3 separate regions of the Homo sapiens genome follow, and all the other regions are linked to region 2. Evidence: fine-mapped expression QTL. A gene starts in region 2. Each other region holds a variant in brackets. All regions are shown on one strand. Distances are between the middles of the regions. Region 1 holds the start of LOC124901534 (small nucleolar RNA U13). Region 2 holds the start of TRERF1 (transcriptional regulating factor 1). Region 3 overlaps TRERF1 (transcriptional regulating factor 1).

The links. PIP is the estimated chance that this variant, and not a neighbour inherited with it, causes the effect. A credible set is the group of variants that fine-mapping cannot tell apart.
Region 1: its variant is the best candidate, but not a certain one, in a credible set for the expression of TRERF1 in lymphoblastoid cells (GENCORD, PIP 0.51).
Region 3: its variant is the best candidate, but not a certain one, in a credible set for the expression of TRERF1 in macrophages (Nedelec 2016, PIP 0.51).

The regions. Positions count from the first base shown.
Region 1 is chr6:42,502,489-42,512,754 of GRCh38, forward strand. It overlaps LOC124901534 (small nucleolar RNA U13), which reads right to left and starts at 3,118; the gene lies at 3,012-3,118. RefSeq lists enhancers at 1-113, 4,756-4,875. The variant C/T (reference allele first, on the strand shown) is at 4,924.
Region 2 is chr6:42,447,099-42,457,364 of GRCh38, forward strand. TRERF1 (transcriptional regulating factor 1) reads right to left here and starts at 4,828. Exons shown (of 18, transcript NM_001395490.1): 1 at 4,576-4,828; 2 at 4,079-4,163. LOC124900214 (arf-GAP with GTPase, ANK repeat and PH domain-containing protein 2-like) reads left to right here and starts at 5,262. Exons shown (of 4, transcript XM_047419627.1): 1 at 5,262-7,184; 2 at 7,682-7,817; 3 at 8,847-9,056; 4 at 9,638-10,086. The coding sequence starts at 5,723. The coding sequence ends at 6,820. It overlaps LOC107986596 (a long non-coding RNA gene), which reads left to right and starts at 5,262. Exons shown (of 5, transcript NR_171668.1): 1 at 5,262-5,527; 2 at 7,119-7,184; 3 at 7,682-7,817; 4 at 8,847-9,056; 5 at 9,638-10,086. RefSeq lists silencers at 5,293-5,372, 5,843-6,282.
Region 3 is chr6:42,312,914-42,323,179 of GRCh38, forward strand. All of the region lies in intron 3 of TRERF1 (transcriptional regulating factor 1), which reads right to left. Among named protein-coding and RNA genes, the nearest start is that of MRPS10, 100 kb to the left of the region's middle. RefSeq lists enhancers at 2,351-3,018, 3,087-3,146, 3,737-3,826. The variant A/G (reference allele first, on the strand shown) is at 5,252.

The DNA of each region.
Region 1 (10,266 bases), 55 kb after region 2:
TCTGAGAGCAGAGATACCTCTGCTAGCCACTGCATGCACAAAGTAGAAAGTGGGAAGGGGCAGAAGTATCAGGCTTCTCCTACCCAAGTGTACAGTACTGGGTTAAAAATAGTAACCCTGCACAATTCATGTTCACCCAGAATCTTATTTGGAAATAGTGTCTTTACACAGAGACTTGGTGTCTGTGTCCAAATCACTATCTCTGTCTTCCCAGTGGGGAGAAGACCATGTGAAGACAGAGATTAGAGTGATGCATGCACAAGCCAAGCCATGCCAGAGACTGACAGTAACCACCTGAAACTAGAGCCTTCAGAGAGAGCAGGTGCCTGCTGACACCTTGATTTTGGACTTCCAGCCTTCAAAACTATAAGAGAATAAATATCTATTGTTTAAGCGTCCCAGTTTGTGGTACTTTGTGATGGATGCCCAAGGAAACTGATACACCAAGTAATCCTACCAATCACTCTTGCCCCACTCTCCACCCCATTTTTCATCTTTCCAATTTTTAACTGTAAGATTCTCAAGTTCATGATAATGTAGAAGCCTTTTCCATCTCTCTTGTAGGTGACAATAACAAATTGACCCGATATCACCCCCTACTTTTAGCCAAGAGAAAGAAATTTACCACAAGACAGTCTTTCCTACTTGGTGTACTTGCAGTTGAAACTCAGTGTTCCCTCCTAGACATCAGGTCATTGTGATTCAACTCTTTGAGTCTCAGTTGATTCATCTAGAAAATAAGAATGATAATACTACCTCCTACCCAACAGAATTATCATGAAGATCCATAAAGATGAGTGTCTTCGTCCATTTTCTATTGCCCTTTTTTTTTTTTTGTCTCGCTCTGTCAGCCAGGCTAGAGTGCAGTAATGCCATCTCAGCTCACTGCAACTTCCCCCTTCTGGGTTCAAGCAATTCTCGTGGCTCAGTCACCTGAGTATCTGGGATTACAGGCATGTGCCACCATGCCCAGCTAATTTTTGTATTTTTAGTAAGGAGGTTGTTTGCCAGGCTGGTCTCAAACTCCTGGCCACAAGTGATCCACTCACCTTGACCTCCCAAAGGGCTGGAATTATAGGCGTGAGCTACCGTGCCCAGCCCATTTTCTGTTGGTTATAACAGAATACCTGAATCTGGGTAATTTATAAAGAAAAAAAAATATTTCTTATAGTTATGGAGGCTGAGAAGTCCAAGGTCAAGGGGCCACATCTGGTGAGGGCCTTCTTGCTGGTGAGGACTCTGCAGAGCCCCAAGGTGGCATAGGGCATCACATGGCGAGGGGGCTGAGCATGCTAGTTCAGGTCTCTCTTCCTCTTCTAATAAAGCCACCAGTCCTACTCCCAGGATAGCCCGTTAATCCATTAACCCACCGATCAACTAATCCCTTCATGAGAGCAGAGACCTCATAACCCAGTCACCTCTTAAAGACCCCCTCCTCAATATTGCCATGTTGTGGATTAAATTCCAACAAAGTTTTGGAGGAAATAAATATTCCAACCATAGCAATAAGTTTGGTAAAGCCTCTTGCAACAGAGCCTGACGCAGAGTTGGGGCATTATATTTTCCTTATGCTAAGTGCCACTAAGATAATATTAGCAACTATGACACATATAGAAAGTAATACATGTCATCACAACTTTTGCACCGGTTATCCAATTCTGTGAAGATACCTTAAGAAAATAACATAAACTACTGAAACTTTACGCTTGAAAAATGTTCACCATAGTAATCCTTTAAAAAAGACACTGGCAGTAACCTGAATAGCCAACAATGGGGGAGTGATTACATAAATCTGCATTTTCCAATGTATATATATTTTTTACTATGCAAATGTTCTTTATCAATTCATATATATAAATATACTTATAAAACTTGTAGTATTTTAAAATATTTTATAATTTCGTTTTCTTTTTATTTAACAGACACATATAATGCTTATTATGTACCAGGCACTGTTCTAGGCATTGTTACAGGCACTTCAAAAATATTTAGAATATTACACTTATAAATATTAGCTCATTGATATATGTTTTACAATTTTTTGTAAAATTGTTTATGTTTAAAAAAGTATTACAATTCTACAAAAAATATTAATTTAATATAATCCAATAATATTCATGTTATTAAGACAAAATTCAACTTTCTGTTTAACATGACACATACTTTAAATCAATTATGTAAGACAAAATATAATTTGTGATTTACATTTCGAAATGGAATTGTTTATTATGGTTAGTTTAGGGACCAAGCCTATATTCAGTATAGATTAAAAGTAACTACATGCAGCTGGGCGAGGTGGCTCATGCCTGTAATCCCAACACTTTGGGAGGCTAAGGTGGGTGGATCACCTGAGGTCAGGAGTTCAAGACCAGCCTGGCTAACATGGTGAAATCTCGTTTCTACTAAAAATACAAAAATGGCCGGGCGCTGTGGCTCACCCCTGTAATCCCAGCTCTTTGGGAGGCCGAGGTGGGTGGATCACGAGGTCAGGAGATGGAGACCATCCCGGCCAACATGGTGAAACCCCACCTCCACTAAAAAAAAAAAAAAAACATAAAAATTAGCCGGGAGTGGTGGCGGGCGCCTGTAGTCCCAGCTATTCCGGAGGCTGAGGCAGGAGAATGGCGTGAACCCGGGAGGTGGAGCTTGCAGTGAGCCGAGATCGCGCCACTGCACTCCAGCCTGGGCGACAGAGCGAGACTCCGTCTAAAAAAAAAAAAAAAAAAAAAAAATTAGCTGGGCGTGGTAGCACACGCCTGTAACCCCAGCTTCTCTCGAGGCTGAGGCATAAGAATCACTTGAACTCAGGAGGCAGAGGTTGCAGTGAGCCAAGATCAAACCACTGCACTACAGCCTGGGCAACAAAGTAAGACTCTGTCTCTAAAATAAAATAAAAGTAACTACATGCTATGGCAGTCAAATGGACAAAAGCTATTGTGATTGCCTAGTGTTTAGAATTTTTGCATTTTAGCTTAAAATATCAACTTTTTTAAATTAAAAATTTCTTTTCACATCAGATGAGTAATGTGCTGATGTCATAACAAGGAAGTTTGAAGGAGTCACATCTCACATATTAGCATGAAAACCCAATCATCACCCTTATGAATCACAAACGGATCTCAACTGTTTTATTTTTGGACATTTTATGTTTTGTTTCAAAACAAAGAGATGAGAGATTTCAGGCTGTCATTTGCAAACAATTTTCTACAAGTACATTTGGAAATGGAATTGGGGTATGGATAATCATTATTCCCAGTAAATGAATTGTTCCTTGCTATAGTTTGAATGTGTCCCCTAAATTTCTTTCTTTTTTTTTTTTTTTTTTTTTTTTGAGACACGTCTCACTCTGCCATCCAGGCTGGAGTGCAGTGGTGCAATCTCAGCTCACTGCAACCTCCACCCTCCCGAGTTCAAGCAATTCTCCTGCCTCAGACTCCTGAGTAGCTGGGATTACAGGCACCCACCACTATGCCCGGCTAATTTTTGTATTTTTAGTAGAGATGGGGTTTCACCATGTTGGCCAGGCTGGTCTCAAACTCCTGACCTCAGGTGATCCACCCATCTCGACCTCCCAAAGTGCTGGGATTACAGGCGTGAGCCACCGCACCTGGCCAGCATAATGTTTTTAAGGTTCATCCATGTTATAGCATGAGTCCGTGTGGAATTTATAACAGTCCAATAGACTTCTTAGGTGTTAGTCCCCAGTGTGTTGTGCTGAGCGGGGTATGGACTGAGGCACTGGCTTATCATCTCCACTAACCCTGTGTGTATCCACGTGACACACATCCAGAGGCTCTCATGCTGCTCAGCTTTAAAGGGGCAATGTTTCAAATTAAAAACTGAGCTACTTTTTATTTTTTGAAATTAAAACAAATGCCATTGCTGTCTTTGACAATGTGACCCCCCCCTGGAAAGATGTTCATGAATCCTCTAGAGAATCACGAGCACCTTATGGGACCCCCATGAGGTGGACCTTTTTGCAGCCATTAGATGTGATGCTCATGAAGACAAAATCTACGAGAAAAATGTTTATGATCTAATGTCACAGGGGAAAGTGTAATACAAGGTCATAGTATGCTATGAAAATTAGAGGAAGACCATTTAAAACTGCGTAAAGACACTTCTGATGAGAAGACAGAAAGGGAATGTACAAAATAATAACAATACCATGCTGGATGGTAGAACCATGGGTACATTTTTTTCCCTCCTGAACTTTCCAAAGATCTGTAATGTGCTTATATTACTTTCATAATTTAAACAATGATCACTGGCCTTGAGCAGCTTTTTGCTCAAGTCAACCTTGGTTCAAGCCATCACAAAAGTACATGCAGACCCTCATGTATCAATAGATAGGAATCTTTAAGTTAAATGATTGGAAAATTACACAGGAACCACTTTCTAATGTTCACTTTGGAAAGATAACTGCCATTGGCTTGCCTTTTAGAAGACAGCTTCTTTTAATGAGGCCCTTTTTGTACTTCATTAATCCACCCCCAACGGCCTTTAATTAGACCAAATTCTGTTTCCCACACACTTCTTTAAACAAAAGAACAGTACATTCATGTAATGTACCAGGCCACCTATTTAGCCCACCTGTTTTAATGTGTTGGGAAGGACATCGGCTTGGTTGTTCAGGAGGTCTGAGGTCTAACCGTAGCTGTGTGGACTCTGGCAAGTGAAACTCCCTTCTGAACTTTTTTCTTTCTCATCTGTTCCATGTGAATGGGAGTCCTGACTTCTATGGAGCTCTAAGTGAGAAGGAAATTCTCAGCTCCTTAAATGATCTCTGTATTTCTCATAAGTAGACATACTCAGGCTGAAAAGCAGGAAAGTAGAAGTGTGATCAAAAGGCTGGAAAGCAGGAAAGGGAAGTGTGATCAAAAAGGGTTCACATGAAAATAAGCAAGACAGGAGAGAAAGCAC[C/T]GGAGGGTGAACCTCAGGAGACCTGAATTCTACTCCCAGCTCTGCCACTGGTCACTGGCAATCCTGAGTTAGTCATTTCCCTTCTTTAGGGCTCAGTTTCTTCTTCTGTGAAATTAGGTGACAGGTCCTAAGGCCCCTCCGGTCACAAATTCTATATATATATATATTTTTTTTTTTTTGAGATGGAGTTTCACTCTTATTGCCCAGGCTGGAGTGCAATGGCGCGATCTCAGTTCACCACAGCCTCCACCTCCTAGGTTCAAGCGATTCTCCTGTCTCAGCCTCCCGAGTAGCTGCGATTACAGGCATGTGCCACCACGCCCGGCTAATTTTGTATTTTTAGTAGAGGCGGGGTTTTTCCATGTTGATCAGGCTGGTCGTGAACTCCCGACATCAGGTGATCTGTCCACCTTGGCCTCCCAAAGTGCTGGGATTATAGGCATGAGCTACTGCGCCCGCCCCCCTCCCTCCTGTCACAAATTCTATTAATATGTGATGCTATATCACAGGACAAGGATTGCCTATTTAGCCTCACTTGGTTCTTACAGGACCTCTTTGTTATTCAAAGGACTCAGCAAAATGTTGACTTTTTAATCTTTTAATTCATTCTCCCGTCATCTGTGAAGTAAATCAGAGGAGAAAATCCAGATCAACATTCCCATTTAAGCCAGTTTCTTGAGGCTGATACTTAACAAACAATAAACTGATGAATCATGAGATGGCCTTGGAAAATATTAGACACTTAAATCTTCTCAACATTTTTCAGGAAATAGGCTGTAAATGGGGGAAGAAAAAAATGTAAATGTGTTCAAGATGGGGAATTGTCTTAAATAAAAATAACTACATTTTATTTTTAAATTAAAAAAAAAAATACTTCCCCTGCAAGAACACTTAGGATGAGAACAAAAATACTATTAGGGTTTTTTTTCTTTAGAACTCACAGCCAACTCTTGCTAAACAGAGCATTTTGGAAAATTTGCATCATGGCTGCAGATTCAGGCAAGGAGGGTGGTTGGGATGGGTGACTTTTCCAGCCACTTTCCCAGTTACTTGGTTTCCCTGATGGTGACACTCTGCTGTAAAACCAAATGCCACAATCATCAGGGGAAGGTGTGGGGTAAAAGCATGGAGGTGGCAACGTTTATCTTCCGGCTCAGTACCTGGTTGTCTCCTGCAGTGGCAACTCCTCTAAAAAGGTGCCCACTAAGGCCAGGCGCAGTGGCTCACGCCTGTAATCCCAGCACTTTGGGAGGCCGAGGCAGGCGGATCATGAAGTCAGGAGATCAAGACCATCCTGGCCAACATGGTGAAACCTCGTCTCTACTAAAAAAAAAAATACAAAAAATTAGCCGGGCGTGGTGGCAGGCGCCTGTAGTCCCAGCTACTTGGGGGGCTGAGGCAGGAGAATATTGTGAACCCGGGAGGTGGGCTTGCAGTGAGCCGAGATCGTGCCACTGCACTCCAGCCTAGGCAACAGAGCAAGACTCTGTCTCAAAAAAAAAAAAAAAAAAAAAAGGTGCCCACTACACCCATAATCCTTTTTGTTTCTTTCTTTTTTTCCACACAGTCAAAGCTTTTTCCCAGGACAAAACTTCTAAGTGTATTGTTCAGATCTATAAGTGATCGAGCATGTCCTACATGGCGTTATATGTTCCCTATGTTGATAAGCTTCTACAGGATTCAAAGGCAGAATTTTCCAGCTACAGTTACAGTCACCAGCCTGGGTTGAGATAGCATGGGGATGTGAGAGGAAGGGGTGTTTCTAGGGTCTATCCATCAGGGTTCAGTTGCAGAAACCACTAGGGCTAACTTAAACAAATGATTCCTTGACAAGAGAAATAGGTACTTAAAAAATTGTTTGAGGGGCTGTAGGAAGAGCCCTACGGTGACCTTCCAAGAATGACTCCCCAGAACAAGATGGCAGAAGTGGCCCATAAGGGAGCTGCTTCTTCTGTCACTACAATAAGTTGGAGAATCAGGAAATACCAGAAATACTAGGATCACATCGTTCCTGACACCCACAAAGCTAAGAACCAGACACTGGGACTCTTCCCACTTCTGTCACAGAACTCCATTTATCTCCACACATGTGCATGCCAGGAGAATGACAGAGAATAGCAGAACTGTGGCCCCCACCTTATATCTGTCTTCCAAACTCCCAAGTGAGTTTCCTTGATGGACTCAGAACTCAGCTCTAAAGGAGTCTAGGAAATTAATAGTCTTTCTCTTTTTATCTGAAGCATTTAGCAAGGCATATTAGCGGAAAAATTACCCCCACTTGTTTCTGCCCTGGAATCCTATAAAAGTTGATCAACCTTGGGAACATATAACCCATTGTAGGGTATTCTCAACCACTTATAGCTCAGAACAATGCATTTCAAAGTTTTGCTGGGAGTCGGAATGGAGCTGAGTGGGCCTATCTGTAATATTTGTCATGGAGTGGGGAAAAACACAATTCCCCCTAGGCCCCTTAAGGTTCACTATGATACACCAAAGCCAGCCCTGAACATCATCATGTGTATAAGAAGAATCTATGCAAAGTGTAAGACCTTCTGGTGGGGGAGGACTCTGAGTACAGAATATAAATCACTCTTGGCTTCCCAGAGCTTACGCTGACTCATTTGAGAAACAGAAAAAGTGACTGGCAGGCCAACATATACATACACATGCATATAATATACATATATGCACACACATATATATGAAACTTTTGAAAAAAATGCACTAGGGAATTTATTATTTGCATATTTAAAAAATCTACCTTAGATAGCATCAGTATGTAGAGGCTAGGGACATGTTCAATTCCAACATTTATTGAGGGCTGACTGAGTACCAACTGAGGGCTAGATACATCCATGCGGGCTTTTCCATTTAGTCTTCATAATATGTGAATGTAGAATTCCAGAAGCATGAGATAGCTAGACACATAGATATCCTTGGATATATAAAACAGTTATTAGATTTCCCTGGCTGGAAAATTTAGGGATAGAAACTGAGTATGTGTGTAGATGATGCATTTATCTTTATTGAGAAAGTGAGCATTGAGAGGAAGGTGCACTCATTTAGAGAAGATGTCGGATTTCCAAAATCAGACATGTGGGGAATAAATATGTGTAGCTCACATGGCATTGCACTGCTGATGATCATCTTAACTATAATTTAAAGGTTAGATTATAATTTAATGGTGTTATGAATGAAGTGTTATGACCTCGGCATACTGCCTGGTTGATGTGTGCCTGTATATGCACACTTGTGTGTCTTGGGGAGGGGGACGTTCTGTTTCAGAAGTCACCAAAAAGAAAGTTATTCTTCTACTTAAGAGGAAGCAGTAAAACACTAACCCACTGACACAACACATCACAAAACACAGAACACAGAAGTAGCTGGTCAGAACTCTCATATTCAAAGGCAGATCTTCCATCTCCAGCAGCCAAAGACTTAAGCCATGTTCCGGGTAAAGTAACAAGAGGAAGGTGTTTTTCGGAACCATCCTGAGGAAATCAAAGGCTTTTGGGGGGCAACTGAATGGGTAAGGATTCTGTATTTATAGGTAGAATGTGTCCAAGATGGATGGAGGAAGACCTCCTGATTTGGGAGGTAAGTCTTGCCACCAGGTGGCACACACTATTGTCTTTCTTGTTCTTTTTTATTTCTTTAATTTTCTATATTGATAGTAATAATAATAATGGTATCTATTGAGTTTTGTTTTTGTTTTTGTTTTTGTTTGAGACAGAGTCTTGCTCTGTCACCCAGGCTGGAGAGCAGTGGTGTGATCTCAGCTCCCTGCAACCTCTGCCTGCTGGATTTAAGCAATTCTCCTGCCTCAGCCTCCTGAGTAGCTGGGATTACAGGCACATGCCACCACACCCAGCTAATTTTTGTATTTTTAGTAGAGACAGGGTTTCGCCATTTTGGCCATGCTGGTCTTGAACTCCTGACCTCGGGTGATCCACCTGCCTCTGCCTCCTAAAGTGCTGGGCTTATAGGCGTGAGCCACCGCTCCTGGCTACTGAGTTCTTATATATGTGTTTGGTATTTACTACCTCATTTAATAGGCATGTCATTGTTCTCATTTTACAGACAAGAGAAGGACACTTAAAGAGTTTACCAAAGCCATAGAAAAAATAACCATGGACTCCAGGATTTAAACCCAGGTCTGTCCCCAGAGCCTGAGCTTTTAACCACCATTGAGGTCCTAGCATCAGGACCGAGTCAACGAAACTACTGTGGAAGTAGGCCCAGTTCTAGCACAAATGCAGAGAAGATGTGGAATAAAGTATAATCCAAATAAATCTCCAGGTGCTAGGAATGAAGAGAACCATCAAAGGCAGAGCAGCTAGCTGAGCTGATGTCATAGTAGCCCAGAAGAATATGGATCTGGAGTTAGGGCCGGGGGCTAATACCTGTGAGAGGACAGGAGGAAGGCAGCGAGCCCTGCATAAAATTGAAGGCCTTGAGCTGGCATGGTGGCACATGCCTGTAGTCCTAGCCACTTGGGAGGCTGAAGCAGGAGGACCGCTTGAGCCCAGGGGTTTGAGGCCAGTCTGGGCAACATAGTGAGACTCCGTATCTTAAAATAAATAAATAAATAAATAAATAAATAAATAAGGCCTTGTGGCACTCTTCCCCCCTTAAATGGAGATAGAAAAACTGGACATGGGCCCTGGGAATCAGCCAGGAAGCTCACCATTTGTTTAAGGTCTGGAACATGAGGGGGAAAATGTCATCCAGAGAAACCTAAACCCTGGGCCTATGCCATGTGCATAGGAGTGAGGGCCATTGACACACTCAGCATTCTGGCAGAAGCAAATGTGTGAATCATCTCCGCGGAGAAAATGTTACTACTCAAGAGTTTCAAGGATTCCCATTGGGAGAAACAACCTGCTGAAGACAAGTTCACAATAAAAAATTACAAACACCCTACTATGCTGGTGAGAGTCAAATCCTGTCTAAGATTTAAAGAGTGAAAAATAGGTTGGACTGGAAAAAGAAAGAAAAGAAAAAGCAACTGTCAATTCAAGCCAGAAAGAAGACAGACATAAAGAAAGCCAGCTGCAAAGTTCACAGGAACATTGCTTCCCCCAAAGTCAGTCGGCAGCTGTAAAATGCCATAAAGACCCCCTCTTTGAACGTTGACTGCTTTCCTACCAAACTCCCAGACAGCTTTGCCATACCCACCTATTGCTGGTTAGCCCATTGCTGAGCTACTGCTGCCTCATGGCAGCACCCAATACCTACTTAATCCCCACTTCTCTTAACTGACCCCACCCCCAACCAGAGTAGGAGCAACCAATCCAGAACTGATGCCTACTTCCCTTAGAATCTTCAGAATCCTTCAGCAGC
Region 2 (10,266 bases):
ATCAAACATATAAAAAGAAATGTTTATGTTGCTAAACCAAACCCCAACAGCTCAGCATATGCTACCCCATGCCAGCTCATCGTCTTCCATGATGAAAGACCAAGAATCATCTGTTTCTTCAGTAAACCAAATTACTACAAGCAGCTACTCTGAGAACTTAAAATTCTTAGAAAATATCACAGAGGCTTTTTGTTGTGTGTTTTCTTTAGCCCAGAAGAAAAGATTTATTAAGAGAGCCCTGGGGTCAAACTCATGTTACTGAGACTATATTATTCCTTAAAAATGCCCACAGCACCCTTGTGGCAACGCACGCCAGTAACTGGAATCCAGCTGTTCTTGTCCTCCTCTCTCCACAAAAGAAATCAACTATTCGTTAGTTCTCCTTTATTTTACTGGTTTCCCTTCAACATGCAAATTCAGAAATATCATTAATCCACAAGATCCCAGATGATTTTAATCCTTCCTCCTCCCTCAGCCACACAGTTTTATGAGGTCGGAAATAAAATGAGCTGAATTCAACCGCCTTTAGAGCAGGACCATGAGCACCATTTATACCGCCTGGGGTATAAGCCACTTGCCTAGATCCTTACTTTTCTTTTTTGTTGTTGTTGTTTTTGTTTTTTTGAGACAGAGTCTCGCTCTGTCACCCAGGCTGGAGTGCAATGGCATGATCTCGGCTCACTGCAACCTCTGCCTCCCAGGTTCAAGCACTTCTCATGCCTCATCCTCCCAAGTAACTGGGATTACAGACCCCCACCATCATGCCCAGCTAATTTTTGTATTTTTGTAGAGACGGGGTTTCACCATGTTGGCCAGGCTGGTCTTGAACTCCTGACCTCAGGTGATCCGCCTGCCTCGGCCTCCCAAAGTGCTGGGATTACAGGCATGAGCCACCGCGCCCAGCCCTAAATCCTTACTTTTCATGGCAATGTCCAAAGTCAATAAAAACATCAAGAGCTTCTCCCAAAAATGCCCATAGTGAAATACAGAGAATCCTGGTGATAAAAATGATACTATATCATTATTATGAACCTTATCACAAATATTCAGCCAAATCCCAATTACCCACAGAAAGCAGGCAAAGCCACACTGGGCTTTCTGGTCTCCAGTTTCTCCCCAAAGCTATCTCCTCCTGCTGCCTGGGAATAAGAGCTTGGTTAACCTTAGACTTGACCAAGGATTAGACAAGTTAACCAACTGGCTGGAGAAGAAACTTCTAAGATGAACAGAAATTATTTTTGGTACCTAGGATATGTACATGCTGCACTCTCTGTTAGTGCATAGAATTGAGAATTTTTTGTCCAAGACACTGGCAGACATTTATTCATAAGTATTTCCTTGTGTTTGATGGTCAAGATCACCAGGCCACTCAAGAGACCTTTCTGGAATACCAAGGATCAAATCCACTTTCTCCATGAGAAGACAAAAACAGAAGTTAATCAGCTCACCCAAGTCCATGAAGCAATTGGCCGTTGGCTCAGGAAGAGACTGTCAAGACCTCTGGAGACCTCGCTTACAAGACACAGAATTTCAGAGCCGGAAGGGAACTCACGGATCAAACCACGCACTTTTAAGATAAAAAATCCAAAGCCCAGAAATGGCTAGAAATTGGTACCTTCCCCACCTTTCTTTCCAGTGATGTTTCCCCTAGCCTTGAGCATCAAACTACTTTAAGTTCTTTGTCACTTTACCAATACTGTAAACTTAAGCCAACTATTGAACACAAGACAATTTTAACACTTCCTGGCTAATCAGCTTCACAGAGAATCCTTACATTTGTCAAAAAAATAACGCTTTCGGTTATTATAACCAACCCACCCATTAAAGAAGGAGAAAAAGAAAATCATAAACAAGCTTTATTTTTTGTGACCACACATTTTATTATACAAGCAGCAAAGAACACTGCAGTCTGTCTCCTCTTTTACACTTTAAGTTCCTAACTCAACAAAAACCACAGGCCCAAGCCGGTTATAGGAGGCAAAACTGAGTACTTTCCACACAGTTCATAGAACAACTGTTTTCACAGCAAGCTCACATAAATGCTATGTGATAATAACACATGCCTGCTATGTGGAAGCCTGCTTACCAAGCTGTGAAAAGACCCATGTTTACTATGGAACCTGCAAAATTAATCTTCTCATACAGCAGAAGGGAAATGCTCTTTTTGGGATGTCAAGCTGGCTTCTAAACAATCCTTTGGCGAAAATGGACATGCCTAAAAGGGCGGAGCCCAGAGAGGTGTGTCACTCCGGGTATCAATTCCTATAAATCAGATCCTGACAATCACCACAATATTTTAAAAAGAACGAATTATGATTCATGGGCCTTCAAGCCTTTATTACCGCAAGAACATTCTCGGTAGAAGAGGAAAAAAAAAAAAAACTACTGTGACTTGATTAATGGCCAAAGCAAGACAATAAAATAAATCTCATAAATATAAGGAAAAAAACCTGAATGACTGCTCTTGGCTCTGAGGCTAGGCATGTAAATAATTCCACCCTGGAATGAACATACATAAAGATTTTGTTTACCCTCCCAGCAAATACAACAACCAGACTCAGATTTTCATCAGGTAAAAATAATAGCTAATTTGCTTAACTAATGCCTAGTTAGGAACATTTGATAAGCAGCAATAATATTTAATTCCCAACTAACTCAACTCTCAAACTGCCAAATATCAACCCTCAATCTGGAAATCTGACGACAGTTAGGAAAGAAAAAAAGCACTCTCCATCAGCAATGTGTAGCGAGTTTTTTAAAACCCATTTTTCTCGACCCTGCTAGAACAGAGCCTGTCTACAGAATTGCAGAAAGCTTAACCAACCTCAGTTAACCCCACTGCCTAGTGGCTACTCCCTAACCCTACTAAACGTCTCCGGGTTGGACCCGAGATGCTAAAATTATCCTAGCAAAGTTAAAACTCCCAGCATCATCAAGGTAGCTGACAGCTAAGACCTACAACTCTTCTGCAGAAACCAGTAGGCTGAGGACCAAGAAAACAGAGGCAAGGAGAGGCAAAGGCTGCTGGTTAACTAGTTAAGCACTGAGGACTCCTGCTGTTATCCTCTCCAGTCAGTGAGCATCAACACCACACTTCCTATCGCCAAACTCCTTTCTTAAAAGGGTCAGTGATGCAGAAGGTGGGTGCTAACTGGGACAACTTAAAACTCCCCTTCTTAAAACTCTCCTCAATGACCTGCTGAAAAGTGCACCTGGACCGGTTTTCAGGAGATATTTTTTAATGAACTCTTTAGCCACTACAGGGGCGGTCATTCCTAAGCACGACTTCCACGCACTCACAAGACAGCCCAGGCCATGCTGAATTGAAGCCATCCCCTTCAGTACTGGCACTTGCCAAAGCTGCGTCTAGTCTGGGGAAGAGTTTCCACAAAGCTGGCTCTAACAGGCCGGTAGAAGACACACGGAGGAACCAGAAAGCGTTTTCTTGTAACCTAAGGATGGCAGGCGCACATGCTCCAGTCCAGTGCTGGCCAGAGGCTGCCTGCCAGGTGCTCTCGGCCTCCGCTGGTGAAGGAGTGGTTTGGTTGGTTTTTAATATCTGTTTCTTAAGACCACCGGCAGTAACTTCCCAGTCTCCCAAACTGAAGTTGGGGAGTGAAGGAACAGGTTTACCCCCTTACACATTTCTCCCATCTGGGTGGCCACACTAACTTCTGGGGAGTACCCAGCCCCCACAGAGCCCGCAGGCGCGTATACATACACATATGTATCATGTCAAAAACCCCAAAAGGCAGAGTCCTGCGGTTTCTTAGCTGGAGAATGAAGCCTTTATAACATCACAACCTCAAATGCAAGCCCACCATCACTACCTTTAAGCCAGGGTTGCCAATTATAGCGCCCACCTCATCCCTCCCCCTTTGCTGGGATGCTGTGCAGCCCGGAGAGGGAAGAAGGGAAGAAGGGAGAAGGCCTGCTTGCATAGTGAAAGTAAAGGGGGGGGAGACTTCTCCTTCTGTCTCCCCACTCTTCCCTCCCCACTTCGCCCCACCCCCGTCTTCTCGAGGAGCATCCCCAAACTAATTTTTTAAAAATGAAACTTAATAAGCTTCTTGCCTACCTTGGCTGTTTCTGCAACAAGTGCATGGGCAATCCGACGAGAAGACCAGTATCCGCTTGGGGGGTGAGATGGGGGGCGAGCAGAGCTGATGGAGTAATTTCAATATTAATTTATGTCAGCCGCCTTCTCTCAGCGCTACTCACTTACTGTACTGCCCTCAGCCTGTAAACAAATATCGCTCCGCCAGGAAACATACTCCCCAGATGCAAGCCCCTCTCCCCAGCAGGGAACCTGGCCCCTCGTCCCCCCGACAAGAGTGTGCTCCCCCACCCAGGGTAGGAAGCTTTGGGTTTCCAAAGCACCAACCCACCACCTCCTCCACCACCCCAGCAAGAAACTTACTCGGTCCGTCTACGCCTCCACCCTCCCTTCAGGAAATCTACTCTCCATATGCATTCAGCCTCCCCGCAGGAAATCTGCTCCCCCCTCCCCCCTTCTATATACATGCACCCCTCCCTCTCCTCCTCCCCATGCGCCCTCCCCGGCCAGAAACTTACTAGTGAGCAAGCGTGCAGGCTCTCCTGATGCTGGAAACTTACTCCCAGATATAGCGCCCGCCAGCCCCCTTTCCCAGCCCTGCTCCCCTTCCTGCCCTCCGCCGCAAGCAACTCCAAACTCTCCGCATCCAGCCGTTCTCCCTCCCCAGTGGAAATTTGCAGCGCCGGGCTGCGCGCGTGCATCCACCCTCCCCTTCAGGAAACTTACTCCCCATCTGCATGCACCGCCTCTCAGCCATCGCTTAGAGGGAAGGGGGTGTGCTGGGGAGACAGAAATACATATGTATCTCTCGCCCCTCCCCCGGTCGCAGCCCACTCGGGGCCGAGCCGCGGTAACCTGGCCTTACCTTTGCATTGCTCCCCATCCTCGCCCCCTCCCTTAACCCTCCTTATCCGCTCCCCGGTACCCCCCTTTTTTCACCCATTACCCACCCCTAGCAACCGTTCCCAAGCTCCTCTCGGCCTTTTTTTTTTTTTTAAATCCAGGATGCAAATTCCTCCCTTGTCAGCAAATCGACTGTCAAATTATTTTCTTGCAAAAGGAGAAAGGCGGGGTGGGGGGGGGGAGCAGGAGCAAAAAGAGGGGGAGGGCGGGGGAAGGGAGGGGGAAGGGAGGGAGAGGGACCGAGGAGGGGAGATATCCCTCCGCAGAGCTGGGTCTGGCCGCGGGCGGGGAAGCAGGAAGTAAGGTGTCCAGCGCCGCGACCGGCTGGTCGTCCGCCTCGGCCCCCGCCCGCGTCCCCTTTCCCCCGGGGCGCAGCGCTACGGCGGGCGCGGGCCGCCCGGCGCATTGTTCGCAGCCTTCGCGGCGGTGCGCTGCTGACTTTATTTGTGCGCTTTGCGTGTGCGTGAGGTTGCACCTTTTGTAGGCTGGCGAGTCTCTGGACGAGGATGGGACGGGGGACACGGGCCCAGTTGCGGCCCTGCGCGAGCGGGACCTGTCAGCCCTGAGGTGCAGCGGACCCTCCGGCATGGCCGGAAAATCGAGGCCGGGGAGAAGGCAGCGTGGCCGGGAAGCTGCCGCCTTAAACCCGGACCAGTGCAGGATTGCTTCCTGCGTAGCCGTCCCGGTTATTGTAACACGCTTTGCAAGCTAACGACTGGGGTTTGTGAGGGGGTTTGTTTATTTTTCTAAGTGTTTGCAAAGATGCCGAGGTCGAGGCGGGCTGCGAGGAGACGGTCCGCGCCTACCCCCACCGCACCCTGGCCTCGGTGGGGCTGGGAGAGGGCTGGGGCTCCGGAGAAGGGGCTGGAGGTTCGCGAAGCGCGCGTCTCCATCCCTCCGCCCCGATGGGGGCGGGGAAGGGGTGCAGTAGACCGCGCTGGAAGAGCAGCTCTCTGGGGAGGGGTCTCCCTTGCCGCGGCAGGCGCAGCAGGCCGGGGAGGGGGGTTGCCTAGGAGAGGGGCCGGGCGGCGGAGGGGAGGGGAGGAGAGGGGGCGCGGGTGCAGCCGCCGCGCGCGCTCGCCCCTCCTCGCGCGCCATGACTGTGGAACGTGGTGCCGGGGAGGAGGGACGGCCACCGGGGGCCGCCCGGGGCTGCTCGGCATTGGTGCGGAAACCCGAGCCCGGAGTCGCTCCCTCGCGCTGTCTCCTCCTCCTCCTCTGCGGGGGAAACCGCTGCACCCAAACCGGGAGCAGCTGCGAGCAGGGGGCAGGGCGCGGGCTGAAAGGCGAGCCGAAGGTTCAAACCTCCGCGGCGCGGGCGGGGGCGGAGGGCAACAGCAGGACGGCCCCCAGGTCCCGAGAAGGCGTGGCAGTGGTCGGCCCAGGTGTCAGGGAACCTGGCCTGAGACCCCTGCATTTCCAAGCTTCTTTCCTGGTCAGAGGAAACGTGAACCAAAGGTAGTTCAGCTAAACAGACCACCTCGAGCCGGGTTCGAGGCATCTGTCTCGAGGGCAAGACAGTATTTTTTGCACGACAGAAAGTTACACCATCCATTTTTTTCCGTGGGGGAAATCATTGCGCCCCTTCCCCCAAAATGTCGCGCAAGAAGAATGACCTCCCGCTACCCAGACCTTCGCCAGTGTCCCCCACCCCACCCCCACCCGGGCGCTGGGTGTGGATTGGGCGGAGGGAGGCTATATGGGAGCTTAAAGCATGAGGTCATGAGCGGAGGAGACTGCTGCCAAAAGCACCCGAGGTTTTTGTGTTTTTTGAGGGGTAACGGTTCTCCATCTTCAGCAGTGGAAAGTCCTCCCGCCTACCCTACCAATTCTGGGGCACGTGGACCACAGAGTCCCTGAAAAGAGGAGGGGACCCGGGCTATTTCGCTTAATGAGCGTTTGGCGCGTGCCCAGCCCTTTATGGAGCCCTTCCACATAAGCAAAGAAAGCCGAGGGACAGCGCACAGTGTTGCGGCGACTGGGAAAGGCTTCAGATGCTCGATGTCCCCCGCCCTCTTTCCTCAGTCCTCGGTCATCTTCCAAGTGGGCTGCTTTCTGCGATAGCTTCCTGTCCCCCTCCGACCCATTCCTCCCAAGCGACTAAAACTCCTAATGACATTATTTTAAAGCCTTCAAAACCCTCTTCCATTGCCCTTAGAATAAAGCCAAGTTGTGATTTCGCCTCTACAGACCTCTCTACCCGCCCAGCTCTTCCTCGGATATTGTAAGCCCCGTCAAGCTTTCTTTGTTCAAGGGGTGGAGGAGGGGGCGCCTAACCTTTCCCCTTCCACCTCTTCTTACTAACTCCTGCTGGACCTTCAAGATTTGACTCAACTGTCAGTAACTTCAAGATGCCTTCCTGAGGGTACACCCAGGTCTCTACCTCAGGGGAAAAGACCTACCCTAGGTCTCCTGGCAGCAGCGCTGTGGCCGGAGTTGGCCCCAGTGGCGGCCTTTTTCCAAGCGGAGGAGGAACAGCCAAGCTAAGCTTGACCACCGTCACCGCCCAGGGACCTGAGCGGGAGCTGGCTAGGACAAAACCTCAAAACGGGACTTGGGAAAACCGCACCACCCAGAAAACTCAGCCCCTCCACCTCCCTCCCAGCACACACACACACCCTCTTAATCTAAAACTCCTCCCCGGGGCAGATAAGGAACCTATTCGGAGAGTTAAGTTAATTGCCCCAGGTCAATGTGGAAATTCACAGCCTGTCTTTCCAGCTCCTAAACCAGAAGCTGCAGAGAAGGAAGGATTTGGGATTTGCGGCTACACAGCCAAGGACGCTTTTGTCATCTTCAAAGGACCCCCTACACCCTACACGCTTGGCCCGCTCTGTTCATTGCCAACAGAGTGATGGTAATGCCAGATGGTTAGCTCTGCAGGCTCTGACCTTAGGCAAATTACTTAACCGCTTGGTTCAGTTTCTTTGCCTGTAAAATGGGAATGATAGTATTCATATCATAGTGTTATTGTGAGGTTTAAATGAGTTATTTTATGTAAGGCCTTAGAGTTTAAAGCAAGTTACTAATATTTGTGAATAGGGTTGTGTATCCTCCCCCGCCCCGCCCCCCCCCCACCTTCCAAAGGACTCTAGAAAATCAGATCCTCAGAGTCTTAGCTGATTGAAGCATCAGAAAAATATCTATGGGGCCAGGCGGGGTGGCTCACACCTGTCATCCCAGCGCTTTGGGCGGATGAGGTAGGCGGATCGCTTGAGCTGAGGAGTTTGAGACCAGCCTGGACAATGTAGAGAGACCCTCTCCACGTTTATTATTAAAAAATAAAAAATTAGCCAGGCATAGTGGTGCATGCCTGTAGTCCCAGCTACTGAGGAGGCTAAGGCAGGAGGATGGCTTGAGCCCACGGGGTTGAGGCTGCAGTGAGCAGATTGCCCCACTGCACTCCAGCCTGGGTGACAGCGCAAGACTCTGTCTCAAAAAATAAAATTATATATATAGAGAGAGGGAGAGAGAGAGAGAGAAAGAGAGCACCAAAAGGACTGGGAAACACCGGCAGATGCACAGACAATGCATCCCTGATTTTACCAATAGACTTGACTCCCAACAATGCATACTCTTGAAGGCAATCCACAGGTTGAATAAACCAAGTCCATGAGCGCTGGGTCTGGAATCTTTCTACAATCAGGGTCAGAAGGAGGGTGACTGAAATTAAAATATTAGCTTGGATCTTTGAAATCAGAGTCAGGCTGAAAAAGTCCCAATCTTAGTTCAAAACCTGTCCTGCATGACTGAAGCCCTCCTAGGGCTGCACAAAGTATAATGGAATTATTATTATTATTATCATTAGATCCTAGTCTTACCATTCTCAGCACTTATCCCCATAGCAAAAGACCATTTTTTAATGTAATTTATTCTTTTGGAATAGGTTGAATGCATTCACATGGTTCCAAATTCAAATAAACAGCAAGAAGTCTCCCTCCCACCCTGTCTGCCACCCACTTGGTTTTCCTTCTCTGGAGGCAACCTGGGTTAGTGGTCAGAAGATGCATTTAACTGTTTTCCAGCTGAGGCCTTGTGAGAACTCCTCGGACACCAATTTAAATCTTTATGTCCAGAACTCCTTTCTCCAATCCAGGTAGAGCCACTCCCCTATCCTATCCCCACTCCCACCCTTCCCCCCTTCAGCCTCAATCCTAAGCAGGCTCTATTAACAATGATGAGCCACCATTTCCTCGAGCTACTAACAAATGCAAATGTTTAAATACTTTGTGGTTCTTTTTCCTCTTCTACATTAATTGCTAACATTTATCGAGGGCTTTCCGTGTGCCACGCACTGTGCTAAATACTAGGCATGCATATTCTTATTTAATCTGCCCCAAATCTTCATCATTATCCTTATTTACAGATGCAGACAGAAATGAAAGTTCAGAGAGATTATGTAATTTGCACCAATTTGCATCCAGGCCAACCTGAATCCAAACCCTATCTCTTTTTACTTTTTCTTTCCTTTTTTTTTTTTTTTTTAAACAGGGTCTCACTCTTGTCAGCCCAGATGGCATGCAGTGGCACAGTCTATGGAGGCAATCAGGGTTAGCTGTCAGCTCACTGTGGCCTCAACCTCCCAGGCGCAAGTGATCCTCCCACCTCAGCATCCCCAGTAGCTGGGACTACAGGTGTACGCCACTACCCCCAGCTAATTTTTGTATTTTTTTGTAGAGATGAGGTTCCACCATTCTTGCCCAGACTGGTTTCGAACTCCTGGACTCAAGCGATTTGCCTGCCTCGGCCTCAAAAAGTGCTGGGATTACATGCATGAGCCACCACACCCGGACCCTCTCTCTTAAATAGTGGCCCTTTTGCCTCTCTGCAACACAGGAAAAATTCTGTTAGCCTGCATCAGAAGGAGTGGCATGGAGGCTTTGGAGTTAAGAAGATTTAATTCAAATTATGTGTCCGGTGCCTGCCAGCAATGAGACCTTGGTAAGGTTTCTTAACCTCTCTGAGCTGGGACCATACCTTCTGCGTTGGTTTAATATAAAGGTTAAATGCATGTAAATAAATGACTTCTAAAATAAATAACATTCTAAAATGTTAGTAACAACTAAATACAATATTTAGATCTTGTGAGGATTTGATTTGAATAAATAAGATTTTTTTAAAAGACATTTTTGAGACAAAATGTAGACTATCTGATATTAAGAAATTAATCACTTTTTCAGATATGATAATGGCATTGCAGTTTTTTTTAAGTTCTTATCTATTACAGATACATAATGAGGCATTTTGAGTGAAAATATATCTAGGATTTGCTTTCCAATACTCCATCCCCTCCCCATCAAAACACT
Region 3 (10,266 bases), 130 kb before region 2:
TGCCTTCAGACTAGAGCCACCAGCCTTTTGGGGCCTACAGATTCCCCTCATCTACCCATAGCTTGCAGCCTCGACCCTGGGGCAGTGCCCTCTGCTCATTTCCAGACTGGGAAGCAGGCCTGATTGTTTCTGCTGAAGCAGGAAAAGATGGTGAGAGAAAGGCAGGGCTGGCTGTGTAGAGAGGGGAACCAGCAGAAGTTTTGCCTTCAATAAGGCTTTCCTTCCAGCCCACACTTCCAGGACACCCACTTGTGACCCTGAGATCGCCTGGGGTTCGGCATCTCTCTGGTGCTTCCCAAGGAACGTCTTCAAGAGAAGGCTCCGGCTCTGAGTCATCTGAAGCAGAGAGGAGACCTTGTAAAAATAACTCTAAGTATGAAGCTCCTGTATTCATATTATTCACGATACAAAGAACAAAAAAGCAGGGCAGGAAGCAGAGGAGGAAAGTGTCGTTCACATCAGTTTTCTTCATATGACAAGCAGCCAGGAACTCAATTGCTAAGCCTCATCTCTCTCTCTCTGTTTCTCTCTCTTTCCTTGGAGCGATTACATAAGCTGGAAAAGGGGTCTTCTCTGCAACATCCTAACTCTCCCAAGAGTCCCTCTCCATCTGTCACCTGTAAATCTGAGCCTTCCCAGTAACGCTTACCGGGATGCAAACGTGCTCAAGTTGTGCACTCTCCTGGGATGTGGGCCCCAGAACAAGGAATTCCCTTGAAGACCCAAGGGCCTTCACTGAGCCCCAGGAGTGGGATTTCTGGCAATGTGACCATATGAGGGAGAACCTATTGGGGAGGCTGGCAGGGTTGGCCAGGTCTCTGAAGGCATATGTGGTGGGGCTTCCTTGAAAGACCTTGGATTTCAACATGTTAGGATATGTGGGCCTCAGGAACTCTCCTGGTCATATTCAGGACTTCCTGGGCTCCAAGCGGGGAGGTGCTGCAGACTCACTTCTACGTTGCCTTCTGAGAGCCATGGTCTTTATGGATCATGGAGGTAAGGACAGGGATTTTGAGACAAGGATGAGAGCCTATTAAGAGAAAAAGCAAAGGAATGAGACCGGAAGCCGGGAGAGATGAGAAATAAACAAGATCCTGGGAAACAGGGAACAGCTGGAGGTGCGGCCCTAAAGGGTTTTTTTTTTGTGCTTATCAGGCACGCCCCTTTCTGGAGAGGTGCCATAGTGGTGGTCCTGACCTCTTGTGGCTCATAACTGAAGACAAACTAATTACTTTTAGACAAATGCATGTACATATTAGGAAATGAAAACCTCCACCATGGCATGGTAAGTATAAGCTTCAGCTAAATTCAGAACCCTAGCTGATGCCAGTAAAAAGAACTATTAGCAAATTCACTGCTTTGTGCTTTGTAAACATCTCTATTCACAAGAAAACATGCTTTAGAGTATGAGTCTACCCTGATCGAACTCTTCATCAACATAAATCCCTGGTTTTACAACAAGAAGCCAAGCTCACCCGATGCTTTCAAATGTGCACAGTTAAACTAGGGCAGAGGTCCCAGCAAGCCTTGCAAAATTAAGCTCATGCATCTAAAAAAATACTGGCCGAGTGCCTCAATGCTAGGCATTGTTCTCCGTGACTGGCACGCAACAGTGAACAAAGAAGACAAAACTCCCTGCCCTCATGGAGATTTCATTTTAATAGGGAGAAACAGAAAATAAAAATTATTATAATTAAAGTGTATAGTGTATTAGATGGCTGTAGATGCTATGGGAAAAAACAAAGTAGGAAATAGTCAGGGAAGCCCTCTCTGAGAAGGTGACATCTGAGCAAATGCCTGAAGGAATAAGAACAATGAGATCTGGGGAAAGAGCATTCTAGGAGGAGGAACAGCAAGAGCCCTGTGGTGGGTACATGCCGGATGTGACTGAGGAATTAGAAGGGTGTGGCTGGGACAGTGAAAACCAGGAGGAAAGCAGTAGGAACAAGGTCAGAGATTCTAAACGTGATTTTAAAACAAAACAGAAGTATAAACTTGATGGAGCGAATAGGTTGGTCGCATAGGGTGCTTAGGAAAGGCCAAGGTAAGGAGGTGTCAGTTGAGCTGAGACCTAAATGAGCAAAGCATGAAGATGTGAGGAGAGAACGTTCACAGCAGTGGTGACAGCGAGTGCAGTGGCTCTGGCAGGGATGAGCGTGCATGTGGCAGGTGTGCAGTGGGTGGGATGAGGCAGCGTGGTAGGACGGGGTCTCCATTATGTAGGGTAGTGGTCTCCACCTGGAGTGATTTTGCCTTCCAGAGGACATTTGGCAGTGTCTAGAAACATTTCTGTGTCACGACTAGGGAAGTGCTATTGGCACCTGGTGGGCAGAGATGCTGCTAAACATCTTACAATGTGCAGGACAGTCCCTTTCAAGACAGAATTCACTAGCTCCAAATGTCAATAGCACTAAGGTTGACAAACCCTGGTGCAGGGCCTCACAAGTCACAGTAAGAAGTCTGGGTGCTCACAGAAGCACATGCCAAGGACTTTCTAATGCCTCGTGCCTGCTGGAGTGTGATCCTTACACGTGGCACATCCAGGTCTAGAGTATGGCACATTGGGATGAAAGAGAAGGGCGCTAGGATCGGCGCTTAGAGCACAGAAGCAGGGGTAGAGGCAAAGAGGCTGTGACGAGGTCACCCTAACCTAACTTGGAGCTAAGAGGGAGCTCCTGGAGTAGAGACAAAGGAGGTCAAATGAAGGGGGGCCATCGGGCTGTCTTCTAGCAGCTGATATCCTTCAAGAGACCAGGTGGGGCCCCTGGGTCAGGGTTGGGGAGAGGAACACCACCCCCCCCCCCACCCACTGCCACCCCCTAACGTCATAGTGAAGTGTCTGAGGGCTGGAGAACGCTGCAAGTCTGAGCAGTGTGGAAGGCACAGGTTGGGACCAGTGTGCAGACAGCTCAAGGCTCAAGAAGGACATCACCAGCAGAAACACAGGCAGAGGCTGAAGAGGAGGGACTTGGGTGGGGGTGCTCTCCTTTCAGGGGAGAGGACCCCCACACCTACCCTCACGGTACCTGGAAGATGCACATGAGGACCCAAGGGAGGCCTAAAAAATAAGAGGCTGTTTTGGGATGATCTCAGATTTGGTTCTTCCTGCAGAATGAGTTGTTCTCTGCTCCACTGGGGGTGGGGGCACCTGGACGTCAGGCTGCCTGGCTAATGGGTCTACACAAATGACATTTCGAGTCACAAGTTATTTAATTTCTCCGCCAAAGTCAAGAAAGTCCATGGGTCTGGGGAAGTGGCTGTGATGACCAATGACTCTGGCACGCAGTTAACCCCAAGCATGCACCTCCTCCTCCCCGCATTGCTAATCTTGATGATTCATCCAGAGAGGCTGGTCTGCCTCAGTGGAAAGAAAATCTAGGTGAGGGTCTCATTACTAAGAAATGAGAAAAATGCCTCAATGTAGAGGCAGGTCAGAACCCTTCCTGGTCACTATCCAAAGAAGCTTTTCTAACTTGGGGAGGACAGATGAAGGGGACTGCCTCATAGTGACTTTGTTCTAACAAAATTTTGGATGGCATTTTCAGGTGCCTGCTTATGTGTGCACAAGCAGGCAGACACCTTCATTAATACTCTTGAAACCACCTTTGCAAAGATTATGACAGTGACAGGAGTCTAGCATGGCTGACTCCATCTTGCCTCTAGCCTCACAAGCCAGCTGTCCTCCCTCATTCCTGGGTGTAGACCAAGCTAACCATGGGAGGAATTTAGTTTATTGTTTTAACTTTGAAGCAAGGATGATAACAGTCCCTCCCTGAAACGAACCCCCTCCTTGCTCAGGGACCAAAATCGCCTTTGTCTTGGTAATGAAAGGCCACAAGATTAGGATTATGGGAGGGGCCTGAATTCTGCTAACATGTAGGTGTAGCTAAAGGATAACCAGCCATTCCCCTCCACCGCCCCCAGCTTGCCTTTTTATAATCCCTTGCTACTCATGAGTCATGTGGCCAGAGGTCACAAGATTTGTGACTTCCCCAATTGCTCCTATAGATAACATCACTATTGTAGAACTTAAGATGGGTCTTTTGAGATGCTTTTCAGACTTTTGCATTCTGGCAACCATCTGACTCTACCTGGACCTGGGACTCATGACAACCTGTCCTGTGGCCCCCTAATGTAGAGGCTGACTCAGCACACAAGGACCATTTTCCACACCCCTACGATTTCAACCTTCACCAATCAGCAGCTCCCATTCCCCTGTCCACAAAATTATCCGTAGAACACCCTAGCCTCTGAGTTCTCTGGGAGACCAATTTGAGTAATAACTCCAGTCTTTCTGCTTGGCTGGCTCTGCCTTAAACTGTTTGTCTACTACAATACTGTGGTCTCAGTGAATTGGTTTTGTCTGTGCAGGAGGAAGGAAGAACCTGTTGGGTAATTATACCCTCACTCAGCACTAATTTCCTCCTCAGTAGTTTTTGTTTGTTTGTTTGTTTGTTTTGAGACAGAGTCTTGCTCTGTTGCCCAGGCTGGAGTGCAGTGGCATGATCATGGCTTGCTGCAGCCTCAACCTCCCAGGCTCAAGCAATCCTCCCACCTCAACCTCTCAAGAAGCTGGGACTACAGGTGCGCACCATTATCCCCGGCTAATTAAAAAATTTTTTATAGAGACAGGGTCTCATTTTGTTGCCCAGGCTGCTCTTGAACTCCTGGGCTCAAGCAAGCCTCCCGCCTTGGCCTCCTAAAGTGCTGGGATTACAAGCGTGAGCTCCCAGACCTCAATAATTTTTAAAATAACAGTCTTCTCCACATCTAAAACATGTTCACTGTAAAAATTTTAGAAAACAGATACAAAATAAAAAGAAGAAAAACTCCATCACTTGTTGAGAATTATTTTTTTTTTTGCTAAACTTTTTAAGATATAGTTGAGATTATATTGTATACATAATTTTGAATCCTGCTTATAAAATAAGCATTTTGTCATGTTGTTAAAAGTTCTAGGCTAGGCACGGTGGCTCACACCTGTAATCCCAGCACTTCAGGAGGCCGAGGCAGGCGGATCACCTGAGGTTAGGAGTTCAAGACCAGCCTGGCCAACATGGCAAAACCCCGTCTCTACTAAAAATACAAAAATTAGCTGGGCGTGGTGGCAGGCGCCTGTAATCCCAGCTACTTGGGAGGCTGAGGCAGGAGAATCGCTTGAACTTGGGAGGTGGAGGTTGTAGTAAGCCGAGATCACCCCACTACACTCTAGTCTGAGTAACAGGGCGAGACTCTGTCTCCAAAAAAAAAA[A/G]AAAGCTCTTTGTAAATACTAGTTTTAACCATTGAATAATAATCCACTCTAACGCTACAAGAAATAGAGGTCCATATTCTCCAAGGTCTTATTTCGCTGAATACAAGTAGTTTTAAACCAGCCCCCAACACTGAATACAGGAAATTTCTGAGCACTTAATAATGAGTGCCAGGCACTCTACCCCTACCATGTAGGGTGGCTGTGGGGAGGGCTAACATTGGACTGACATAGACAAAATTTCTTTCTTTTCTACAGTCTTGGGATCTCTACACTTCACTTGGTGGAGGGTCATATTCCACTGTTTTCAGTGAAACAGCCAAGACGAACCCTTCATTCAGTTAAGAGGAAGCTCCAGGCTCTAGTTAGGCACTGGAAGTAAAGGAAATGTGGGTTAGGTCCCAAGAAGCAGAGGTAATGTGGACAACTGAAAGGCTCCAGAATGGATACTCAGGGGCTGGACAACTACAGCCTGAAGGCCAATCCGCTGCCTGTTTATGTAAATAAAGCTTTATTAGAACATAGCCACACCCATTCATTTCAGTATTATCTATGGCTGCTTTCAGCTGCAACAAGCAGAGTTCAGTAGCTGCAATAGAGACCATGGCTGCAAGCCCAAAATATGTAGTACCTGGTCCTTGAAGACAACATTGTTTGATTCCTGTATTGGGAGGCCAACCATCCTCCAAAATAGATGCTCTCCCTTCTTTGGCTAAGAGTCCTCACTTAGAAGTACTCTGAAGTGTGGCCAGCCAGAGACTACATTTCCCATCTCCTCCTGCAGCAAGGTGGAACTCCCTGACCAGTTCTCTCCAATGAAATGTGGGCCAAGTAACTTGTATCGCTTTTGGGCCAAGGTGGTTAAGAAGCAGGTGAGCCTTCTCCATCTTCTGTTTCCCTTCCACCTGAATGAAGAGTCCTCATAGGCCTGTGGCAGTGTTTCTCCACCTTTTCTTCATTGTTGCCCTCCTAAGGGGACTTTTTAGACATTTTTTTTCCCTAATTACTTTCCTCCATGACATTTTCACACCACAGATATACTCTATATCTGTTTATGTACCATGTAGATGTTTGTGATTTATGCATCAAAATGTAAGATTTTTCAGCCTCCAAGATCTTTGCCCCCTTGGGCATGATACTGCCCCCATTAAAGATGCATGCTCCAGAGTATAGCAGAGTGACAGAGGCAAGGCATGTAGATCCCTAAATTACCTTGTAGAGGAAAGCCAGTTACAACCAGAAACACTTGCATTGACTGTTACAAGGGCAAGAAATAAACTTCCTTCATGTTAAACTCCTGAAATGTGGGAGATGATTACAGCAGCTAATGTTGCCCTAACCAATACAAGCTTTTAATTTGATTGTTAAAAAAAGTATGAGCCTGGCACACTGGCTCATGCCTGTGATCCCAGCATTTTGGGGGGCTGAGGCAGGAGGATCACTTGAGCCCAGGAGTTCGAAACTAGGCTGAACAACATAGGGAAACCCCATGTCTACAAAAAAATGTAAAAATTAACTGGGTGTGATGGTGTGTGCCTGTGGTCCCAGCTACCTGGGAGGCTGAGGTGGAAGGATTGCTTGAGCCTGGGAGGTCAAGGCCATGATTGTGCCACTGCACTCCAGCCTGGGTGACAGAGTGAGACTGTGTTTCAAAAAAAAAAAAAAAAAATGGTGCATTCAATAGACATATAATAATATAATGCTATATATTATATTAAATACATTATATCATTATTATTTTTTGTTTGTTTTTGTTTTGAGATGGAGTCTCACTTTGTCTCCCAGGCTGGAGTGCAGTGGTGTGATCTCAGCTCACTGCAACCTCTGCCTCCTGGGTTCAAGCAATTCTTCTGCTTCAGCCTCCCGAATAGCTGGGATTACAGACACCCATCACTATGCCCAGCTAATTTTTGTATTTTAGTAGAGATGGGGTTTCACCATGTTGGCCAGGCTGGCCTCGAACTCCTGACCTCAAATGATCCACCTGGCGGCCTCCCAAAGTACTGGGATTACAGGCATGAGCCACCGCACCCAGCCATAACTAAATTATATTATATTATTATATGTCTATTCAATCAAACTTTTAATCCTAAATATACTCCTTTAGGGTTTAGGACAGGTTTCCTAAATCCTAAAGGGGTAAATTTAGGATTAAAAGTTCCTACTTTAGGTGGTGGAGCGTTTAGCCTATTGGCTCTTACATTGACATAGGACAACAATTTAAACAGATTCAAGAAGGGTTGAGATCAATTCTGAGCACAACCTATTAAAGACGAATACGTTAACTGTATTCATTTATACCCTCTCCATTTGAACACATCACTACCAAAACAAAAGTGAAAGAATTTTTTTTTTTTTTTTTGAGACTGAGTCTCGCTCTTTTGCCCAGGCTGGAGTGCAGTGGCATGATCTTGGCTCACTGCTACCTCCTCCTCCTCCCAGGTTCAAGCAATTCTCCCTACCTCAGCCTCCTGAGTAGCAAGGATTACAGGCGCCCGCCACAACGTCCGGCTAATTTTTGTATTTTTTAGTAGAGATGGGATTTCGCCATGTTGGCGAGGCTGTCTTAAACTCCTGACCTCAGGTGATCCACCTGCCTCGGCCTCCCAAAGTGCTGGAATTACATGCGTAAGCCACCGCACCTGGCCTAATAATTTTTTTTAAAAGGCATAACTTCAACAATAAAGGGAACAGGTGAGGGCTACCCAGGACAGAGATTGGGACAACTTTGTGGAAAACAGACAGAATATGGAAGATTAGAAACTGATGATGCAAGCACAGGAAGCCTGAGCTCCAGCGCTCAAATATTATGAGATTCCATTAGCCTGGCAAAATGGCCACAGGCTCATGACTCAGAGACGCCAGAACAACGGAGGGCAGGAATCAGATAGGAGGCTGAAAAGGGGGGAATTTTATAAAATCTGAAGTCAGAAGATTTGCACCCTTCATAGGTGGCTCATGAGGCAGCCAGGTTATCTATTCTTCCAAGCCAAAAAAAAAAAAAAAGGCATTTTCTTCTCTGGAGAAACTGAACTAACCAGCCCCAACCCTGAGACCCCCCTAAACCCCACCCTGAAAAAAACATTTGAGATCCAGGAAGCAGTAGAACCAATCTAGTAAAGTAGTAGAGGAAATCTCAGGTGACAGCTCTGTAGCAGACCTAGAATGAAATCAAATTTGAGAAGAATAGAGGACCCTGGGAGAAAGGGATATATAAAATACCCAACTGGCTAGAGAGTTTGAGAGAAAAAAAATGAGGATATAATAACAGCAAAGTTTTTAAAAAAAAGGCAATGAGAAAGTCTTGGAAAAATTAAAGCTGTAAAAGAAAGTATCCATAGTATATTACTTGGCTCCAAAGAGAATAACACATCAAGCATCAGGGTCACACACTTAAATGCCTTCAGCGTCATGCAAGTAAGTAAATAAATGAGCAAGTCAGGTATTGGAACACTTGCATATACTGCGAGTGGTAGGAACTGTGGCAAACTAGAGTAGGAATGCCTATTCTAAAGGGGACAGACTCCAGCAGAGTGTTACTATATGTGGGAAGTCAGACCATATGTGCCAGAACTTCCAATTTTTAAAACAAAACCCCAAACTCTAAATCTTTTATAAAAAAAACTCTACCAATTTTTAAATGTTGGCTGTAAGCCTAAAAAAAAATCACTAGGCAAATCAAACAAGTATGTCCAATGGTGGATTGTCAATGTGCAACTTGTCATTTATGCAATCACAATAGCATAAGCCCTATCTGCTAGTTTTTCAGCCTTTAAGATCAACCTGTAGATAAAGCATAAAAGACTGAATGGCAGCTACAAAATAAAAATGTAAATGTTTTCAATCTTAACAATGTAAAAGTAAAAGCAGAGATGACAGAAGTTGGAAAGTAGAAGGCAAATTAGGTAAGAACGCAAATACTGCCATTTTACTGCACCGGGACTCAGGAAGTACTGTTGTTAAGAAACAAGAAATATGATAGTAAGAATCTTACTTATAAAGGTAACTAAGCAGAGGAACTATAAATAATAATACAACTTTGTTGTGAGGATGTGGGGAGGAGAGGTAGAGGGATGGTATAAGGGAGTTAAGTTGTTATCTATCATAACAGAAAGTCAACAAGTAATTTCTAAAATAGGAGTAAAATTAAAGCACATTATTGAAAATATGGAGGTAAATGCCATAAACTAAACTAAAATAAAATAAAATTGAGTTAAAAGTGCCTCCAAGCAGTAGGTCTGGGTTAGGAAGGGAAGGGGCCAGGAGACTAATTTTTATTATAAATTCCTCCGAATGCAAACCCCCTGCCCCAAATAAAGCAAAATGCCCTTTTCAAGAAAATAACACAGATCAATTCGTGGGGTTGTATATTGGGACAGATAACTAAGCCTGCTAAGCTTGACTCTCAGATACTATAGAGAACGATCAAAAGAGTTTAAATAAAAATAATTTAATAAATGAACAAGTTATAGAGGTGTGGGGAGGATTAAGGCAACCAGCAATATATGGTGCAGCATGCAGAGACTAAGTATGAGACTAAGTATGAAGGGCAAGAAGGCAGAACAGTGTTACTGTAGCCCAATGCATCTGGAGGACTGGAGCTGTAGCTGTAAAAGATAGCCGTTGCCAGAAAACTGATGAGGCTGAGAGGAAGCAGGGGGATTAACGCTCCCTGCTTTCTGCCTATTCTTGGATCTCCTACTGGTGCCTCCTACTGGCCAAACCCAACCACACCTGGAAGGTAAAGTAAAGGAGCCTAGTTGACACAATCCACTGAGGTTGGTCTCCCAGGCCACAGCAGGGCAGAGAATGGCACTGGGAGGGGGTGGGGGGCAAGCAGAGGATAACTAGCACCTATTCTCACACTCTCCATTATCCTGCCCTCTCCATTGCCTATCTGAATGAAAAAAAAAAATGGATTCAACAAAACATGTATTTGTCTAAGAGTGGTAAATACTGACCTCCTCTAGTTCAGCAGCAGAACTAAGGAACTGTCAGGAAGAGTTGATAAAGGAGGT